Homo sapiens: one gene and its partners. The protein of the gene in region 3 purifies or fractionates together with the protein of the main gene of each other region. This does not show direct contact. Each region holds a gene or a part of one and is shown on either strand. Other genes may lie near its edges.

Region 1 (3,500 bases), about 34 Mb from region 3:
TCTCAATCTGTAGCCCAGGCTGGAGTGCAGTGGCACGATCTCGGCTCACTGTAACCTCCACCTCCTGGGTTCAAGCAATTCTTCTGCCTCAGCCTCCCAAGTAGTTGGGATTACAGGCATCTGCCACCACACTCGGCTAAATTTTTTTTGTATTTTTCAGTAGAGATGGGGTTTCACCACGTTGGCCAGGCTGGTCTCGAACTCCTGACCTCAAGTGATCTGCCTACTTCGGCCTCCCAAAGTGCTGGGATTACAGGTGTGAGCCACTGTGCCGGGCCCATATATATAATTTTTTGGTTTTGGTTTTGTTTTTGAGACAGAGTCTTGCTCCATCACCCAGGTAGGAGTGCAATGGCACGATCTCGGCTCACTGCAACCTCTGCCTCCCAGGTTCAGGCAGTTCTCGTGCCTCAGCCCCCCAAGCAGCTGGGATTACAGGTGCACGCCACCACTCCTGGCTAATTTTTATGTTTTTAGTAGAGATGGGGTTTCACCATTTTGGCCAGGCCGGTCTTGAACTTCTCGCCTCAAGTGATCTGCCTGCCTCGGCCTCCCAAAGTGCTAGAATTACAGGCGTGAGCCACCATGCCTGGCCTATTTCTTTTTTTTTTAAAAAAAAAGTTCTCTGGAAGAGCATAGTATTTTGAAAGTATTATATGTTTCTGATCCATCTTTGTCTATTATCTCAGAATCTCACCATGGCTTAGCTGATTGTTCCTTACTCAAAGGCCCACATCATATTGTTGACCTGCTGGGGCTCGCAGTAATACTTGAAGACTGGGACGCCGGGAGGATCCATTTCCAACTTACTCACATGGTTGTTGGCAGGATTCAGTTCCTCACAGGCTTTTTGACTGAGGGCCTCAGACTGTTGACCTCTCTCATTTCCTTTCCATATGGGCTTCTCCATAGGGTGGCTCACAACATGGCAGTTGGCTTCCTTAAGAAGGAGCAGGCAATTGACCGGGCGCGGTGGCTGACGCCTGTAATCCCAGCACTTTGGGAGGCTGAGGTGGGTGGATCATGAGGTCAGGAGATTGAGACCATCCTGGCTAAAACGGTGAAACCCCGTCTCTACTAAAAATACAAAAAATTAGCCGGGCGTGATTGCGGGCGCCTGTAGTCCCAGCTACTTGGGAGGCTGAGGCAGAAGAATGGTATGAACCTGGGAGGCAGAGCTTGCAGTGAGCTGAGACCATGCCACTGCACTCCATCCTGGGCGACAGAGCGAGACTCCGTCTCAAAAAAAAAAAAAAAAAAAAAGCAGGCAATAGATAGCATCCAAAATGGAAATCAAGGGTTTTGTTAACTAATCTTGGAAATGACTTTCCATCACTTCTGTGATAGTCTAGTCGTGAGAAGCACATCACTAAAACCAGCCTGTACTCAAGGGGAAGAGGTTACCTAAGAGCATGAATACCCCGAAGCAGGGATCATTGGGGGTTAATTTTAGCAGCTACCTGCTGCACTACATAAGGTCAATATCATTGTGAATAATTAATTCATTGGTAATCCAACTCTACTATTTGGTTGGTTATAAGTATTGACTTCAAAACTATGAAAGTTACTTTAATTGGAAGTCTTATATCATTGTTTGTTTCTCTTTTTCTTTATTTTCCAGAATAACCTGGGTATCTTGTGGTCTGAAAGAGAAGAAATTGAAACTGCACAGGCTTACCTAGAGTCATCAGAAGCACTATATAATCAGTATATGAAAGAGGTATGTTACATGTCAGATGAGTTTTAAGTTTTGATTGAAACTAGTTAAGAATTGATAGTAAGAATCCCTCATTCGTAATATTGGTGTGACTCTTCACTGTGCCCTAGAACTTCTCTATAGAGCCATCTGGGAAGTCACCTCATAGCTGAAATTATTGCATATTAAAGACTTCAGGGTTTTAAAAAAATAATCCTTGTATAGGACATAATGGCCACCTAGTCTAAATACAATTATAAAGGAAATATTATTCTAGTGTTATCCTAAAATACTATTTGCATGTTTTTGTATTTATAATCTAAACATTCTATTTTAGTTTTCCATGAAAATAGCACTACTTGAAGGAAACAAGAACTACTTTAACAAAACATCTGAAATCTTTGAAGCAATGGTTCTCAAATGTTAGCACCCATCAAAATCTGGAGAGCTCATGAAAGCACAGCAGACTGGGCATCCAGGCTCTGATTTAGTAGTTCTGGGGTGGGGCCTAGGAATTTGCATTTTTAATAAGATCCTGCCTGGGTGATGCTTAAATGCTGCTGGTCTAAGTACTATACTGTACTTTGAGAACCACTGCTTCAGGGCAATGGTTTTTCAATGATTTTTTTTTTTTTTAACCCGTGAAACCCTTCTGAAAATGCAGCATATAAAAATTGATTGAGTTACTCTGGTTAAGCAGGTTAGAAGGACCCAGAGCCCACTCCACTACAGATTCTTCCTCCTCCCCACTGCAGTAGCACAAAAGAGATGCTGTAGAACTTTTAGGGGTCTGGGGAGCCAACATTGAAAACTCTCACTTTAGGGGTCACAGCCTGCAAAGGTGACAAGCCACTGTGTTACCATCTGTTTCCTTAATAAACTTTTTTTTAATATGAAAGGGAAATAATCAGGCACAATATTTTCTTGTGGATTACTATTTGTCACAGCTATCTGCTTTAAAAATCCATTAATACGGCTGAGCATGGTGGCTCATGCCTGTAATCCCAGCATTTTGGGAGGCCGAGGCAGGTGGATCACTTGAGATCAGGAATTCGAGACCAGCTTGGGCAACATGGTGAAATCCCATCTCTACTAAAAATACAAAACAGCAGGCATGGTGGCGCACGCCTGTAGTCCCAGCTACTCAGGAGACTGAGGCAGGAGAATCGTTTGAACCTGGGAGGCAGAGGCTGCAGTGAACTGAGATCACGCCACTGCACTCCGGCCTGGGCGACAGTGAGACCCTGTCTCAAAAAAAAAAAAAATCCATTAATAAAGTGCTTTTATAACATTAAAAAAGTTGAAATAACATTAGATATCACATAAAAGAGACTAAACATACAAAATTATGTTTGCTAAATTCATGCGTCAGAATGCTTGACTGCAAAAGGATATAAGAAGCTTGGTATGCCTGTAATCCCAGCACTTTGGGAGGCTGAGGCTGGAGGATCACTTGAGCCCAGGAGTTTGAGACCAGCCTGCGCAACACAGGAAGACCTCATCACTACAAAAAATTAAAAAATTTGCCAGATGTGGCACACACTGTAGTTTTAGCTACTTGGGAGATTGAGGCAGGAGGGTCGCTTGAGCCCAGGAGTTTGAGGTTGCAGTGAGCTATCATCGAACCACTGTACTCCAGCCTGGGTGACAGAGCAAGATTCTGTCTTTTTTTTTTTTTTGAGATGGAGTCTCGCTCTGTTGTCCAGGCTGGAGTGCAGTGGCGTGATCTCGGCTCACTGCAACCTCCACCTCTTGAGTTCAAGTAATTCTCCTGCCTCAGCCTCCCAAGTGGCTGAGATTATAG
Region 2 (5,108 bases), about 100 Mb from region 3:
CTGTACCAGCCTGTGAGCCAGGGCCTGGGTGCCTGGGGGGTCTCGGGAGGTGCAGACGGGGCTGCCAGCGCTGAAATGAACCAGCTCTGTTTTGGGTTCTGTTCCATTCCAGACTGTTTTCTCCTTTCTTGTTTATTACATGTATGACACTAAATTATAAACACACATGTGGCCAGGCATGGTGGCTCACGCCTGTAATCCCAGCACTTTGGGAGGCCCAGGCAGGCAGATCACTTGAGGTCAAGAGTTGGAAACCAGCCTGGCCAACATGGTGAAACCCTGTCACTACTTTAAAACAAAAACAAAATTAGCCAGATGTGGTAGTGTGTTCCTGTAATCCCAAGTACTCTGGAGGCTGAGGCAGGAGAATTGCTTGAACCTGGGAGATGTAAGTTGCAGTGAGCCGAGATCGTGCCACTGCACTCCAGCCTGGGCAACAGAGCAAGACTCTGTCTCAAAAATAAAATAAAATAAACACACATATATATATAATATTTCTGGTAGAAATTTATAAATATAAGTATACAAATTGGCCAGCTATCAAGGTGCCTGCACTATTGATTAATTTATATATAGAACTCCATAATCTATGAGTCATTTCAATTTTAAAAACCTTTCTTTTTTCTGTCCTCCGGACCTTCACTAAGGTGGGCTTATGGATCCAACAATAATCTATCATGAACTTTTCTAAATCCTTAATAGTTATTCCTTCTTAAGATTAAATGCTGTGGAAAGTGAGTTATGTAGATGAAGTTACCCGTGGGCATTGCTGCATTTCCTGATCTTGTATATTCCGTGGAGAAAAAGATGGGGATGCATTTAGCATTGAAAGGTAATTGTTGGCCAGGCGCGGTGGCTCACGCCTGTAATTCCAGCACTTTGGGAGGCTGAGGCAGGCGGATCATGAGGTCAGGAGTTTGAGACCAGCATGGCCAACAAGGTGAAGCCCCGTCTCTACTAAAAGCTACAAAAATTAGCCAGGTGCAGTGGCAGGCACCTGTAATCCCAGCTGCTCAGGAGGCTGAGGCAGGAGAATCACTTCAACCCGGGAGGCAGGTTGCAGTGAGCCGAGATCGCGCCACTGCACTCCAGCCTGGGTGACAGAGTGAGACTCCGTCTCAAAAAAAAAAAAAAAAAAGGTAATTGTCCTTGGGCTTCTTCTATCAATGTGTCCTCACATATTGATATCTGATTCCCTAATGCAGCACCGTGTCATTAATGGAGGGTAAGGCAGACAATTATTATTCAGCTGTGCTGTTTAATAATATTCAACATACATCCCAAGTGGCGCAGGGTGCCTTGGCAGGCGGAGCCCCTGACAAAATGCTCCCATGTATGTCCCGTGCTCGACAGTGCTGTGTGCCTGTGAGTTTGTGCTGAAGTATGATAAACACGTTGGGTGAAAGTGACCCCTTTCAACCTCTAGCGAAACACGACCCTTTCAACCTCTCGGGAAACGCTGGGCCATAGGAGAATGGCTTGATTCCTCATTGCACTGTGAGGCTGAGTCTAGGCAGACGTTCCCATTACTAGGGACTCAAGGTGAGGACTTTCCCACAATTCACTGCTTTTATCCAGTGCTGGAACTGCCCTGTCTTCTGACCAGTGGATGCTGAGGAACTGACATTCACTGTCATTTTTCCCGTTTTATATAATTTAAGGATCACTTCCCATTTAGTGAAGTTTATCTCATTTTTAAAAGATTCTCCCTTTCTCCCCTAGGGCTACCAGGGCATGGTGGACGGAGGCTCAAACATCGCAGAGGCCGACTGGGAGAGTGTCTCCAGCATCCTGCAAGTGGTAGGTACTGGGCTGCGTCCACAGGGTTCTCTGAGTTAGAGACTCTTTTATGTCTAGTAAATTCCCAGAACACTTGAGCTCAGATCAGTTGCGAAATAGAGATTATGTGGACAGAACAGACTTTGTGAGCAGCTCTTTACTTGTGGTTTGATTTTTAGAAATGCATGTGTTAATCTGTGAGTCACTTTGAGTACTTGTTAATAGAAATAATCCAAATCGGTGCCTCCCCGCTGAAGACGCTCATGGGGCCCACACCTTCGTGCTGGTCCAGGCTCTCTCTGCATTGGGCGCCTCCTGAGCTCCGACACATCAGAAGAGAGGTGGAGGGAATTTTGACAACCACGGAAGTTAGGTGGAGCAACGTTTGCAAAACATCAGGAGAGTGTGGGCTGAATTCACACAGGGGAGCGTTTCCATTCTGCGGTCGTGATTGACGGAGGAAGATAAGATGTGAACGGAGAGTTGAAGTGCGTATGTGTATCAGTGAGTCTGTGTTTCTGTGTGTGGTGTATGTGGTGTGTGAATCTCGGTGTGTGTGTAACTGTGTGAGTCTGGTGTGTGTCTGTATGTAGGTGTGTGAGTCTGAGTGTGTATGTGTGGTGTGCCCGTGTGTATGTGTTAACTGTGTGAATTTCTGGCTAGCGAATGTGTATCTGTGTGTGGGGTGTGTGTATATGTGGTGTCCTTGTATGTGTAGGTGTGTGGTGTGTGTGTGTGTGTGTGTGTGTGTGTGAAAGAGAGTGAGTGAGAGAATGGGAATGGCACCCACTCCTCTGCAGCCCAGTTATCCTGGTTTCGTTCCTGAGTTGCGGCCACCTCGTCTCTTTGGTTGGAGTTTCTGGGTTGCTGGCTCTAGCTCCCATTGTGCTGGCTCTCGTGCTGCCCCCCAGGTTTTTGTCCAGGCAGAGTCCAGAGAGCACCCCTGCCCTGCTCTGCGCCCCCACCCTCACTTGCCTTGGGGGTTGGGTTGTAAATGGTCTCGGTCACACTTGGTGCCAGTGACGTAGGATCGTGTGGAGTGAATTTCAGTTTTTGTAACCTTTTCATAATGTTTTGATAAATTAAATGGTGGTAGGTTTCATGTAAAAATAGGAGCTTTTCTGGGATTTGGAATATTAGTGAGTCTCTGTGTGTGAAAATGAGCTGTGTGCGTGCACCATTGGTGTATCGAAACACGCACTCACGTCACTGCAGGGGTCTCCTGGGAGCTGCCTGCAGACCGAAGGCAGGGAGAGCTTCGCCTCCAGTGCAGAGACAACCCCTGCTGTGCTTATGAGCACCTTGCTTGACAAAGTCAGCACGCGCTTAGGGATCCCGTACGGATGGAGTTTTTTGGTGCATTCATGGTTTTATTTAAAGAAATCTTGCATTTGTGGATCCCACCAACAATTCTTAGTTTTTGGAAAACCAAGTGTGACGAATCATGATCTATGTCCCCTGGAAGTTTGGATGAAAGAATTTAAGATCCTGAAGATATAGCTCTTTAAAAGGGGCAGCGAGTATGTGGTGCAAAAAAAAAAAAAAAAAAAATCCCCCTGGCCCCAGGTTCCTGCTGGTTTTACTTGCAGGTGCTGTAAGGGGTGACTGGAGGGAGAAGCCTGGCTGCTGGTCACACCGCTTCCCTTGTCCTGGCCGGCATGCTCTGGTGGTCAGTGGGCTTGTCTTTGGTTCCACGTGCACCTGGTTGAGCTCGTTGGCCGGTGCTGAGGCGGCTGCTGTGACACCGCAGGCTGGTTCCTGCTCCATGTATTTAACTGCTGGCTGCCGTGTGTCTGGCTCTGCACCCTCCCTGGCTCCTCCTGGGTGTCACGCGCCTGTCTTTGTCCATGGAATGCTGGTCTGGGACTAAAAACAGGAAAATCACAGTCTTTCATAGCTAGTTACTAACTCACAAGATGAAAATGAGAAAAATGTAAATTCTAGCACCCCATGTTTATAGTCGGCCTGTGTGTGCCATCCACCTGGCGCTCTCTCAGACTGAGAGGAGATAAATTAGCTGGTGTCTTTCCCAGGGCGGGACGATCATTGGCAGTGCGCGGTGCCAGGCCTTCCGCACGCGGGAAGGCCGCCTGAAGGCTGCTTGCAACCTGCTGCAGCGCGGCATCACCAACCTGTGTGTGATCGGCGGGGACGGGAGCCTCACCGGGGCCAACCTCTTCCGGAAGGAGTGGAGTGGGCTGCTGGAGGAGCTGGCCAGGAACGGTGAGTGGACACCTGCTCCTCTGTCCTGCGGGTTTTCGCCCTGTTTCAGAGCTTTGGAACCGACAGGTTTCCCTCTTCACTGTGGCAGAAGTACCTCTTCTCACAGATCTTACAGGTCACCATCTCAGGACTTTTTAGGATCTCAAAAAACAACAGCAATGATCGTAAGAATGCTAGTAATTTAACCTTACCATGTGCCAGGCACCCTTCGACCTTTCACACAGATAGCTTTATGGAATCCTCACGACAGCCATCTAAGCCAGGTTTTAGATCATCCCATTTACAGATGAGGAATCAAACGGCCACTCAGCCGTGGGGCGAGCCGGGTCCCCAGCAGCCTGGGACACTAGCATCCGCCTTTCAGCCCTCACACTGTGTCCCTCCAGCTCGCTGGGGTCCTTTAAAACTGAAGTTGGGCCGGGCGCGGTGGCTCACGCCTGTAATCCCAGCACTTTGGGAGGCCGAGGCGGGCGGATCACGAGGTCAGGAGATCGAGACCATCCCGGCTAAAACGGTGAAACCCCGTCTCTACTAAAAATACAAAAAATTAGCCGGGCGTAGTGGCGGGCGCCTGTAGTCCCAGCTACTTGGGAGGCTGAGGCAGGAGAATGGCGTGAACCCGGGAGGCGGAGCTTGCAGTGAGCCGAGGTCCCGCCACTGCACTCCAGCCTGGGCGACAGAGCGAGACTCTGTCTCAAAAAAAAAAAAAAAAAAAAAAACTGAAGTTGCCACAGGACTTTAATTTATTTAGACGATAAATCTCTGCCAATACATCATCCAGTACCAACTTTGGCACTACTTAGGAAAGCGTTTCTGAGAGCCCTGTGTGTATGTGGTTTATTTTTGTTTTGTTTGATTGTTTGATTTTGTTTGTTTTGAGACAGAGTCTTTCTCCATTGCCCAGGCTGGAGTGCAGTGGCACGATCTCGGCTCACTGCAACATCTGCCTCCTGGGTTCAAGCAATTCTCCTGCCTCAGCCTCCCAAGCAGCTGGGATTACAGGCATGCGCCACCACACCCAGCTTTTTTAAAATTTTTTTATTTATTTTTTATTTTTAGTAGAGATAGGGTTTCGCCATGTTGGCCAGGCTGGTCTCGAACTCCTG
Region 3 (5,108 bases):
AGCTCAAACATTCTGTATCAAAATTATAAGAATTTTAAGTTATTTTAATAAGCATTTAACAGTATCATGCTGTGTAAATAAGACCAAGCTGTGGCTTGGAGAGTAAACATTAAAAGTTTTTTTTTTTTTTTTTTTTTAAGATGGATTCTCACTCTGCCCCCCAGGCTGAAGTGCATTGGTGCAGTCTCAGCTCACTGCAACCTCTGCCTCCCGGGTTCAAGCAATTCTCTGCCTTAATCTCCCGAGTAGCTGGGATTACAGGCGCCCACCACTACACCTGGCTAATTTTTTATTTTATTTTATTTTTAGTAGAGATGGAGTTTCTTCATTTTGGCCAAGCTGGTCTTGAACTCCTGACCTTGTAATCTACCCGCCTCAGCCTCCCAAAGTGCTGGGATTACAGATGTGAGCCACTGCAACTGGCCTTTTTTATTTTTTTAAGGTGGAGTCTCTCTGTGTTGCCCAAGCTGGAGTGTAGAGGTGCGCTCTCAGCGTACTGCAACTTCCGCCTGCTGGGTTTAAGCGATTCTCCTGCCTCAGCCTCCCTAGTAGCTGGGATTACAGGTATGCGCCACCATGCCTAGCTAATTTTTGTATTTTTAGTAGAGACAGGTTTTGCCCTGTTGGCCAGGCTGGTCTTGAACTCCTGACCTCAGGTGATCCGCCCACCTCAGCCTCCCAGAGTGCTGGGATTATAGGCGTGAACCACCGCCCCTGGCCTAACATTAGAATCTTTCACAAATCTGGTCAGTAAATGCCTTTTTTTTTTTTTTTTTGAGACGGAGTCTTGCTCTGTCACCCAGGCTGGAGTGCAGTGGCTCCATGTCAGCTCACTGCAGCCTCCATCTCCCGGGTTCAAGCTGTTCCTCTGCCTCAGCCTCCCTAGTGCTGGGATTACAGGCATGTGCCACCACGCCTGGCTATTTTTTTGTATTTTTAGTAGAGACGGGGTTTCACTGTGTTAGCCAGGATGGTCTCGATCTCTGTACCTTGTGATCCGCCCGCCTCGGCCTCCCAAAGTGCTGGGATTACAGGCATGAGCCACCGCACCCAGCCAGTAAATGCCATTTTTTTAAGCCTTGAATTACTCGTTTACTTTTGAAGTAGGTTTGGTGAAATAAATCTTGAATTAATTCTCTCTAGGTCTGAGAGCTTCCAGGAAGAAAGGAAACAAACCTATAGCTATAGTTGTCCTTATATTTAGGATACTTTAATTGACGTGATAAATGTGTGAAATTGTTACAGCCTCTGATACGTAATGGACGCTATGAGGTTTTGACTCCAAAAGTAGAAGCCTATTACTCATTCCTGCAAACATCAAGTACTGTATTGTGCTAAGGCTTCAAGTATTCAAACATCTTGCACTCAAGCATTATAAACAGTTTATATTGACCAATTTCCATGTCTCAGCCACTGTTCTTAGCACCTTACATCCTTGTTCCAACTCTACCTGTTTTGCAATGGAAGAAACTGTAGTGCTTATAATTTGCTTAGTCGTAGAGCTAGTTGGTGTTAGAGCCAGGTTTTGAACGCAGGCAGTGTGGCTCCAGAATCCGTACTCTTAACCACAGTATAATTCTGTGACTTCAAATTATCTAACTTCTCTTTCCTGTTTACTTCTTCGTAAAATGAGGATAATAGTACCTAACATATAGGGTTGTTCTGAAAAGTCAGTGAGTTAAAATATGTACTATGCTGCTTAGAATCATACATGAAAAATAGTAAGTACTCAATAAATGTCAGCTGTTATTATGTTAGCATTATTAAGGCATCGAACTCATGCATATCTCTGAATTTTAACCAAATAGGTGGACTAAACCTTAAGTATGAATTTATATATTAAAAGGTAGAAATACTGTGGTCTGTGGTTATTTATGCCTTTCCGATTTTATCTTTTTAAATTATTTTGTAACAGGAAAAATAAGAGCTAAACCAAAGTTGAATGGTGAGCAGGAGTTCATTGGTAAGAGAATGAGTTCTTTCCTGAAATAAAGCAGTTTTTTACCTGCTTTTTTTTTTTTTTCCTTTTTTTTTTTTTTGGAGACAGGGTCTTTGTCTGTTGTCCAGGCTGGAGTGTGCAGTGGTGCGATCTTGGCTCACGCAATCTCTGCCTTCCCGGCTCAAGCAATCTTCCTACCTCAGCCTCCCGAGTAGCTGGGTCTACAGGCACCCGTCACCATGCCTGTCTAATTTTTGCATGTTTTTATAGAGATGGGGGTTTTGCCATGTTGCTTAGGCTGGTCTCGAACTCCTAGGCTCAAGGGATCCGCCTGGCTTGGCCTCCCAGAGTGGTGGGATTATAGGTGTGAGCCACTGCACCTTGCCCTATGTATTTTTTTTTTTTAAAGGAGTATTCAGGAGTCATTACTAAAGGTGCAAAGTATTATATATCGTCTGAATGTAAAAATTGTACAGCTGGTTTATACCTTTATGCTTTTGAAGACCTCAGTTAATTATGGCAACGTTTTGAAGAAATAGCTCAGTCTTTTAAAATGTTTTCCTTACATGCTCTCTTGTTCCTTTGTGTCAATAACCATGTTATTGTTGAAGGTCCGGTATTATTCAAAACATTCAGTTAGAAGCAGCCTTAATGTGTTGATGTAGAACAAATATATAGCATTCTATGTGATATGGCAGGATAGTAGCAATAGAATGTTGATGAGAACATAGCAAAATTAGTCTTTTTTGTATATTTTCAAAAGTTTAGGAACAGATGAAATAAATTTGTAGTTTCTAGTTACAATTTCAGACTACAGATAGGAGCATGTAGCTGCTTGAAGAAGAAAAACAAATTGTCAAGGCAACAGGTACTGCATTTCTCACTCGACAAGTTCTCTCTTCTCAACTTTGTTATTTTTCCTTCGGAGAACAAGGAAGCTTTTGTTCCGAGGCCTGATGTTGAAATGTTAGCAAAATATTATGTTAATCAAGCCAAGAATCTTATGTATTTGTGAACCAAGAATAAGATTTCACAAAGATTCATTTAGAGTATTAAAAGGGACTTCTGCAGTTATTCTTGCATTTTCAGGCTTACACAAAAATAGGCTTCTGAAAAGCAAAGGGCTCCATGTGTAGACGTTTAATGGTTCATTTATTTCTGTCTGTTAAGTCTACTGTGCGAGATGCTGGGGATACAGCAGCAAATAAAACACTCCTCTCCCTTATGGAGCTTATATTTTGGAGAGATTGACAGAATGCAAACTGTCAAATGTAAGGGTTATGTGCAAAAAACAAGTAAAGCAGGGTAAGAGGACAGTGAGTGATGTGTGTGGGTAAGTGTGATGTTATTAGTTGGAGTTTGTTAACTGTTGGCATCACTTTGGTGTGTGAACTATTGAGTGTTGGCCTTTGACAGGAATGTGTAGTGCAGTTTGGGACAAGTGACATAAAGAACTCTGAATGAAAATAATGAAATGAAAAATAAACAAAAAAACTTGTTTATAGGCTGGGCACGGTGGCACATTCCTGTAATTCCAGCACTTTGGGAGGCAGGTGGATCACTTGAGGTCAGGAATTCGAGACCAGCCTAACCAACACGGTGAAACCCCGTCTGTACTAAAAATACAAAATTAGCCGGGCGTGGTGGCTCATGCCTGTAATCCCAGCTACTTGGGAGGCTGACGCAGGAGAATCGCTTGAATCTGGGAGGCGGAGGTTGCATTGAGCCGAGATCGCGTCATTGCACTCCAGCCTGGGCAACAAGAGTGAAACTCTGTCTCAAAAAAACTAAAAAAAAAAAAAACCAAAAACTTATCATGAACTATTTAAAAGATGAGAGGTAATGAAACATTTAAGATAATTTAAATGCAACAGTTTCAAGGAGCCTTCTGGAAAAATAGGCATTTCTTCATCTTAAACTATTTTATTTTTTAATTTTTATAGATTTAGGGGGTACAGTTTTGGATATATAGCATAGCAGTGGTCTGGCTTTTTAGTGTAACCATCACCTGAATAGTGTACATTGTACTCATCAGGTAATTTCTCATCCCTCACCCTCCTCCCACCCCCACTTAAAGTATATATATATGTGTGTGTGTATGTGTGTATGTATATGTATATATATATATATGGCGTGAACCCAGGAGGCAGAGCTTGCAGTGAGCTGAGATGGTGCCACTGTACTCCAGCCTGGAAGACAGAGCGAAAGAGACTTCGTCTTTAAAAAAAAAAAAAAAAAAAAGCATTTGTTTAATTATTTTTGCAGTAGAAGAAAAGAAAGGAAGAATGATGCAGAGGCAATATTGAGAGGGATTTGGGGCAGGAATTTTTCAAAATTCATTAGAGTTATTAAAGAACAGTTTAAAACTAGTAATTCCAAGAAGGAGGGATAGATTGTTAAAAAAAAAAAAAAAAAGCTAATAATTTCAGGAAAGAGGGGAGGGAAGGAGTGTGTGATATATATATATATATATATATATATATATATCACACACACACATATATATATATCTCCTTTCATGTGTTTTGTGATGATAAGGAGTAAAGGTTACAAAATACTTAAAAAAGCTATAGCTTATTTCACAGTGCTATTCTTTGAGTTATAGGTGACACTGTTAACTACAAATATGAGGATTTAGTTTTTCAGCAGTACTGGTAGATGAATTAAAGTAAACTTGCATCTGACTTTCCATGTTTTTAAGGGGATGTATTTGTAAGTAAGTTGGTCTGTGGCTATGTTACAGAGAGGCCCTTAAGCACAATATAATGATAAAACCAAATGTCTAACTACTATAGGTTATTGATTTTACTTGCTTATCTGCCAAGGACTAGGGTTATCAAAGACTGAATAAAATGTGGCTATTTAGTACAATATGAGGCATACAAATGGAGGATATAGCTTTAACTTTTGTTTTTCCATAAACTAGTTTAACATGAGTAATATGCAGTGAAAGTTGTTGTATTTAGAGACCAAAATAAGTTTCAGGCTGGTGAGAAAATTTGAAGAAATTATTCAAAATTATCCTTTCCATGTAAGTTTTAGGGCAGTGTTCTTAGAATGAGAATGAATGGTTGATTATAAAACTTAAAAATGCCAAGTTTAGTTTTTTTTTTTTGAGATGGAGTCTTGCTCTGTCACCCAGGCTAGAGTACAGTGGCGGGATCTCGGC
Region 4 (4,268 bases), about 35 Mb from region 3:
CTTCCGTCTTGTTTTCCTCCCCCCTCCCAAAGTAAGGTAAACACAGAGTAAATTATGCATTTAAAATCTATCCAGGGTGGCTGAACAGAATTTATTAAAGAGGACCTGCACACTACACACTCTGTACCAAAGATTTATATACTGCAGGCTGATTTTCTTTATTGTTTTATATCGTCATACAAAATAAGGTTTTATAATACTAGTAGTAAAAAAAAAGAAACCACAACATAAAGTACTTAGAACCATACAAATATACACATATAATGGAAATACATAACTTCTACTTTGCTTTTAAAGCTTGATAAACATATAGTTACAACTAGAGAAATTATACGATGATTCAAATTTAAAATGATATAATTATTAAAAATAGCAAATTTTAAAAACATTTCAACTTACCTGGTTTCTTTCTGGATTTTTCATGACCTAGCTGTCCTAGATCATTACATCCACATGTGTACACTGTTCCATCATCCAGAACAAACACAGTATGTCTGAGTCCACATCCTACATCTCGGACCCTTTTATTTATAAAGAAGTCACTTTTTCTGGGCTCTAGTACAATTTCTTCATCAATTCCACCCAAACCTAGCTGCCCAAAGGATGCATTTCCCCAGCACAACATGCTTGTAATTATTTTGGTCTTCCAGTTTCAATAAAAAATTCTCTTCTGAAACCCCGGAAAGTTGGAGGTACCCTATGTCTGAGGAAATAGAAAGAAGTTAATATGACTTCAAAGAAAAAAGGATGTATAATTGCTCTTTCAAGTGCTAGGCTACAATAATTGCTACATGGTAAACATTAAATATACTTTATAACATGCTACATAAGTATCATTCAGTTTCAAAAACCAATCAGTTGTATTTTTTAAAATGTATCATACAGAAATTTTTAGGGAAAATATGACACTTTCTATGATCCTTTGCAAAATTTAAAACATATTAACTAGTTTTGACTTCTGGTTATCTTGTGATAGACTAAACTAATAGGAATAAGTACCTTGATGAAATTAATCACAATTTTTTCTACTTTTTGCTTTAAATAATTTCAATGGGAACAAGAAATAAGACATCTTTCCTCTGCCCAAAAAGCAAATATACACAGTGCAAAATTTAGCCAACTGCAGAAACATAACCTTGCAATCCTAGTATAATTAAGCTTTCTAATACCTACCTCCACATCAACAGAAAATGGAGTTCTTATCTGTAACAGAAATAAAACCAATAATGGAAATTTAAAGCAATTTTCCACAATTTAAACGACTCTCCCAATTACTCTTTAGCCCAGAGAGAAAATGAAGATTCTCTTACCAAACCATAATCTTAAATCACCTCCAAAGATCCCAGATTTCAAATCAAAATACTAACATTCCAACCTCACTAATTTTAAAACTAAATCAATGTGCATAATTATAATACAGAAAAAAAAACATGCAATTTAAATATCAATTCTCTCCAAAATTCAACCTCTTTTATTACAAGTGGTAACCGGGATTAAAAAAATCACCCGTGGGCAATCTATATCTATCTATATCTCTGAGACAATTATTTAAAGATTGGCGGGGGGGAATTGCAAATAACTCCAGCACTGCAGATTTTTCAAGAATAGGAATGGATAGTCTGATGGCGAAATCTGTAGAACTTTCCAGCACACTGACTGAATATTTCCTCACTTGTAAAGAAAGACACAAATAACAGAGTCCACTTCATCTATACATACGTAGACTTTTAAACACATCGCGTTACTAAATATCATAATTACAGGAAGTCAGCCTTATTCTGTAGCAGTCATCCACATTCTTACAGAGCCTGCGAAGTTTCAACTCCAATTTTCCTATGTTCCTGTTAGCAAGTGCCCAAGGTGTCCCATTCCACGACCCATCATCCCATTAACAGAAGTTTGATTTCATTCTTTTGGGGTATCAGAACTCGATAATTCCCAAGAGTTCTGCATTGTCTTCCCATATTTAAAAACAAAATAAGAGTAATACAGGAAAATACCCCGACTTCAGCGCGCGAGGTTTAACCACCCTTTTCTTTAAAACACAGAGGCGTCCTCTCGCCAGCAACAGGTAGGGAAATGAGAAGCAGTTTAGTCCCGTCTTTCCCTGAACGTGCACCCAGATCAGCTCATGGGGACTGGGAAAGAGAAATCATCTGCACACACCCAACCTCGCAGCCAAGCAGACGACTACCGCAACCGGCCGCTCGCAACAGCTTCAGAGGCCGGCGGCCGAGGCTTGGCAGTGCGCGGCCTCAACCTGAGAGAAGCCCATCCCCAGGCAGATGAGACATTCCAGCCCCGGGGCCAGGGAGCCACAGCCCTGCCCTCGCCCCACGCCCCTCACCCCCAGGAAGCGCGGAGAAAGCGCCCTATGCCGGGCCGGCCTGCATCCGCCCAGCCCGGCCTGCCCCTCCCTAACGCCGTCACACGCCCCCGAACCCGCTGGGGCCACAACTCGCCCAAGCCCTTCAGGGTAGGGGAAGCCCAAGGTGACGGGGGGCGGCCCCTGCCCAGAGAGCAAGGCAGCGCGGTCGCTGAAGCACGTCTCCGGCTCCTGGGACCCTCCTCTGTCAGCCAGTGGCGACGATCACCAGGGCACCTCCGGCGTCTGTGCCGCTGCTCCGCTGCTCCCCTCCCCGGCCCCTGGGAAACTTTACCGGGTTCCTTAGAGAAAAGCGGACGCCACTGCTGTCCAGTCCAGAGACAGCCGTCAGCGACCCGGATGGAGCGGGCGGGGAAGAACGGGAGGCAAGCGGGGCGGAGAGCACCAGGGGTGGGGAGAGTTGGGGAAGAGACTGGGTAGGAGAAGGCAGAGGGGGAGGTGGCCACGCGAGGGAGGCGGGGGAGGGGCTGGCCGGAAGTGAACCGCAGAGCACGCGCGCGAGCCCGCCCACTTCCCGGCCCCGGCACCGGCGCCTGCGCCGAATCTTCCGGGGGGGGGGGGGGGGGGGTGGCTGGCCACAGGCGCCTGCGCAGTGTGCCGCTTTGCGTTGCTTTAAGAGGGAAAAGCCAAATACAGAAAGTTGGAGTTTGCGAAGACAAACGAAGAAGATGTCAACTGTTTTTGAGAATGCTTCGGCGTGCACAAAGCCTTTTAATGAAGAAAATCACTTTGTTTTTTGGTTTGGTTGTCTTTGTGCTCATGGATGCTAGCTAGTCTTTTTATTATTTTACTCTCTCTTTTCCCAAGGAGATTTTAAAGTAGCAGATGAAACATCACAATTATGAACATAAAGACTGGTGAAGAGTTATTTTATCCCATGGCCTCAACTGGAGCCAGTCTGAGGATGTGAGATGTGTTGATGGCAATGGCTGAAGCTACTCTACTACCACCACCACCAGTTCAGTTTCCTTGTACAGTGTTGGCTACCATCACTTTCTACACTCTCCCTGAAAGATAGGCTTGAATTGCAGGGTCTCATTCTATCAGAGAAAATTACACATTGGCTGCAGTCCCTGATTCATAAAAACGAAGTCTGGATCTCCTAGGCCAGCCTTAACTTCTTAAAAAGCAGGAGAACTTGAAACAATGCACTTTTGAAATTGTAAGTTGGGTATTGCTAGAATGAATATTCAGTACCTAGAAGAAGTTCCACAAATAGGCCATCTTTCTTTTTCTTTTCTTATTTTTATTTATTTATTTATTTATTTATTTATTGAGACAGAGTCTCGCTCTGTTCCCCAAGGCTGGAGTGCAATGGTGCGATCTCAGTTCACTGGAACTTCCGCCTTAGCCTCCTGAGTAGCTGGGACAACGGGCATGCGCCGCCATGCCCGGCTAATTTTTGCATTTTTAGTAGAGACAAGGTTTCGCCATATTGGCCAGGCTGGTCTCAAACTCGTTACCTCAGGCGATCCACCCGCCTCGGCCTCCCAAAGTGCTGGAATTACAGGCGTGAGCCACCGGTCCTGGCCTGTTTCTTTATCTCTTGTTGAAAAACATGTTTTAGATAAGAACTGTCTGTGCTAGAATATGTTCAAGTGTGTGTATTCGTGTCCTAGGCTTGCCATATAAATTAAAACAGATTCGGTGGCTTAAAACAACAGAAATTTATTGTCTCACAGTTCTGAAGACCAGTTCAAAATCAAGGTGAAAGTAAGCTTGGTTCTCTCTTGGGGTCTCTGAGAGATAATCTTTTCCAGGCTTCTCTGCTAGCTTCTGGTGGTTGCCAACAATCCTTGGCAATCCTTGTAGAAGCATCCCTCTTCACCTTGTTTTCCCTGTGTGTCTGTCCAAATTTCCCTCTTTTATAAGGACACCAGAT

What was found.
Region 1: the proteins of NT5C2 (region 3) and KIFBP fractionate together in Homo sapiens (co-fractionation; one large-scale study listed by BioGRID). This does not show direct contact.
Region 2: the proteins of NT5C2 (region 3) and PFKP fractionate together in Homo sapiens (co-fractionation; one large-scale study listed by BioGRID). This does not show direct contact.
Region 4: the proteins of NT5C2 (region 3) and HERC4 fractionate together in Homo sapiens (co-fractionation; one large-scale study listed by BioGRID). This does not show direct contact.

What each region holds. Positions count from the first base shown.
Region 1 is NC_000010.11:68,998,803-69,002,302, forward strand, and holds part of KIFBP (KIF-binding protein), read left to right. Parts: intron 1-1,621; coding exon 1,622-1,720; intron 1,721-3,500. UniProt on the Homo sapiens protein: Activator of KIF1B plus-end-directed microtubule motor activity. Required for organization of axonal microtubules, and axonal outgrowth and maintenance during peripheral and central nervous system development.
Region 2 is NC_000010.11:3,097,553-3,102,660, forward strand, and holds part of PFKP (ATP-dependent 6-phosphofructokinase, platelet type), read left to right. Parts: intron 1-1,722; coding exon 1,723-1,800; intron 1,801-3,368; coding exon of another isoform or gene 3,369-3,448; intron 3,449-3,812; coding exon 3,813-4,002; intron 4,003-5,108. UniProt on the Homo sapiens protein: Catalyzes the phosphorylation of D-fructose 6-phosphate to fructose 1,6-bisphosphate by ATP, the first committing step of glycolysis.
Region 3 is NC_000010.11:103,182,581-103,187,688, reverse strand, and holds part of NT5C2 (cytosolic purine 5'-nucleotidase), read left to right. Parts: intron 1-442; exon of another isoform or gene 443-564; intron 565-5,108. UniProt on the Homo sapiens protein: Broad specificity cytosolic 5'-nucleotidase that catalyzes the dephosphorylation of 6-hydroxypurine nucleoside 5'-monophosphates.
Region 4 is NC_000010.11:68,072,484-68,076,751, forward strand, and holds the start of HERC4 (probable E3 ubiquitin-protein ligase HERC4), read right to left. Parts: upstream 2,801-4,268; 5' UTR 2,661-2,800; exon of another isoform or gene 1,204-2,660; 5' UTR 1,174-1,203; exon of another isoform or gene 704-1,173; 5' UTR 626-703; coding exon 400-625; intron 1-399. UniProt on the Homo sapiens protein: Probable E3 ubiquitin-protein ligase involved in either protein trafficking or in the distribution of cellular structures. Required for spermatozoon maturation and fertility, and for the removal of the cytoplasmic droplet of the spermatozoon.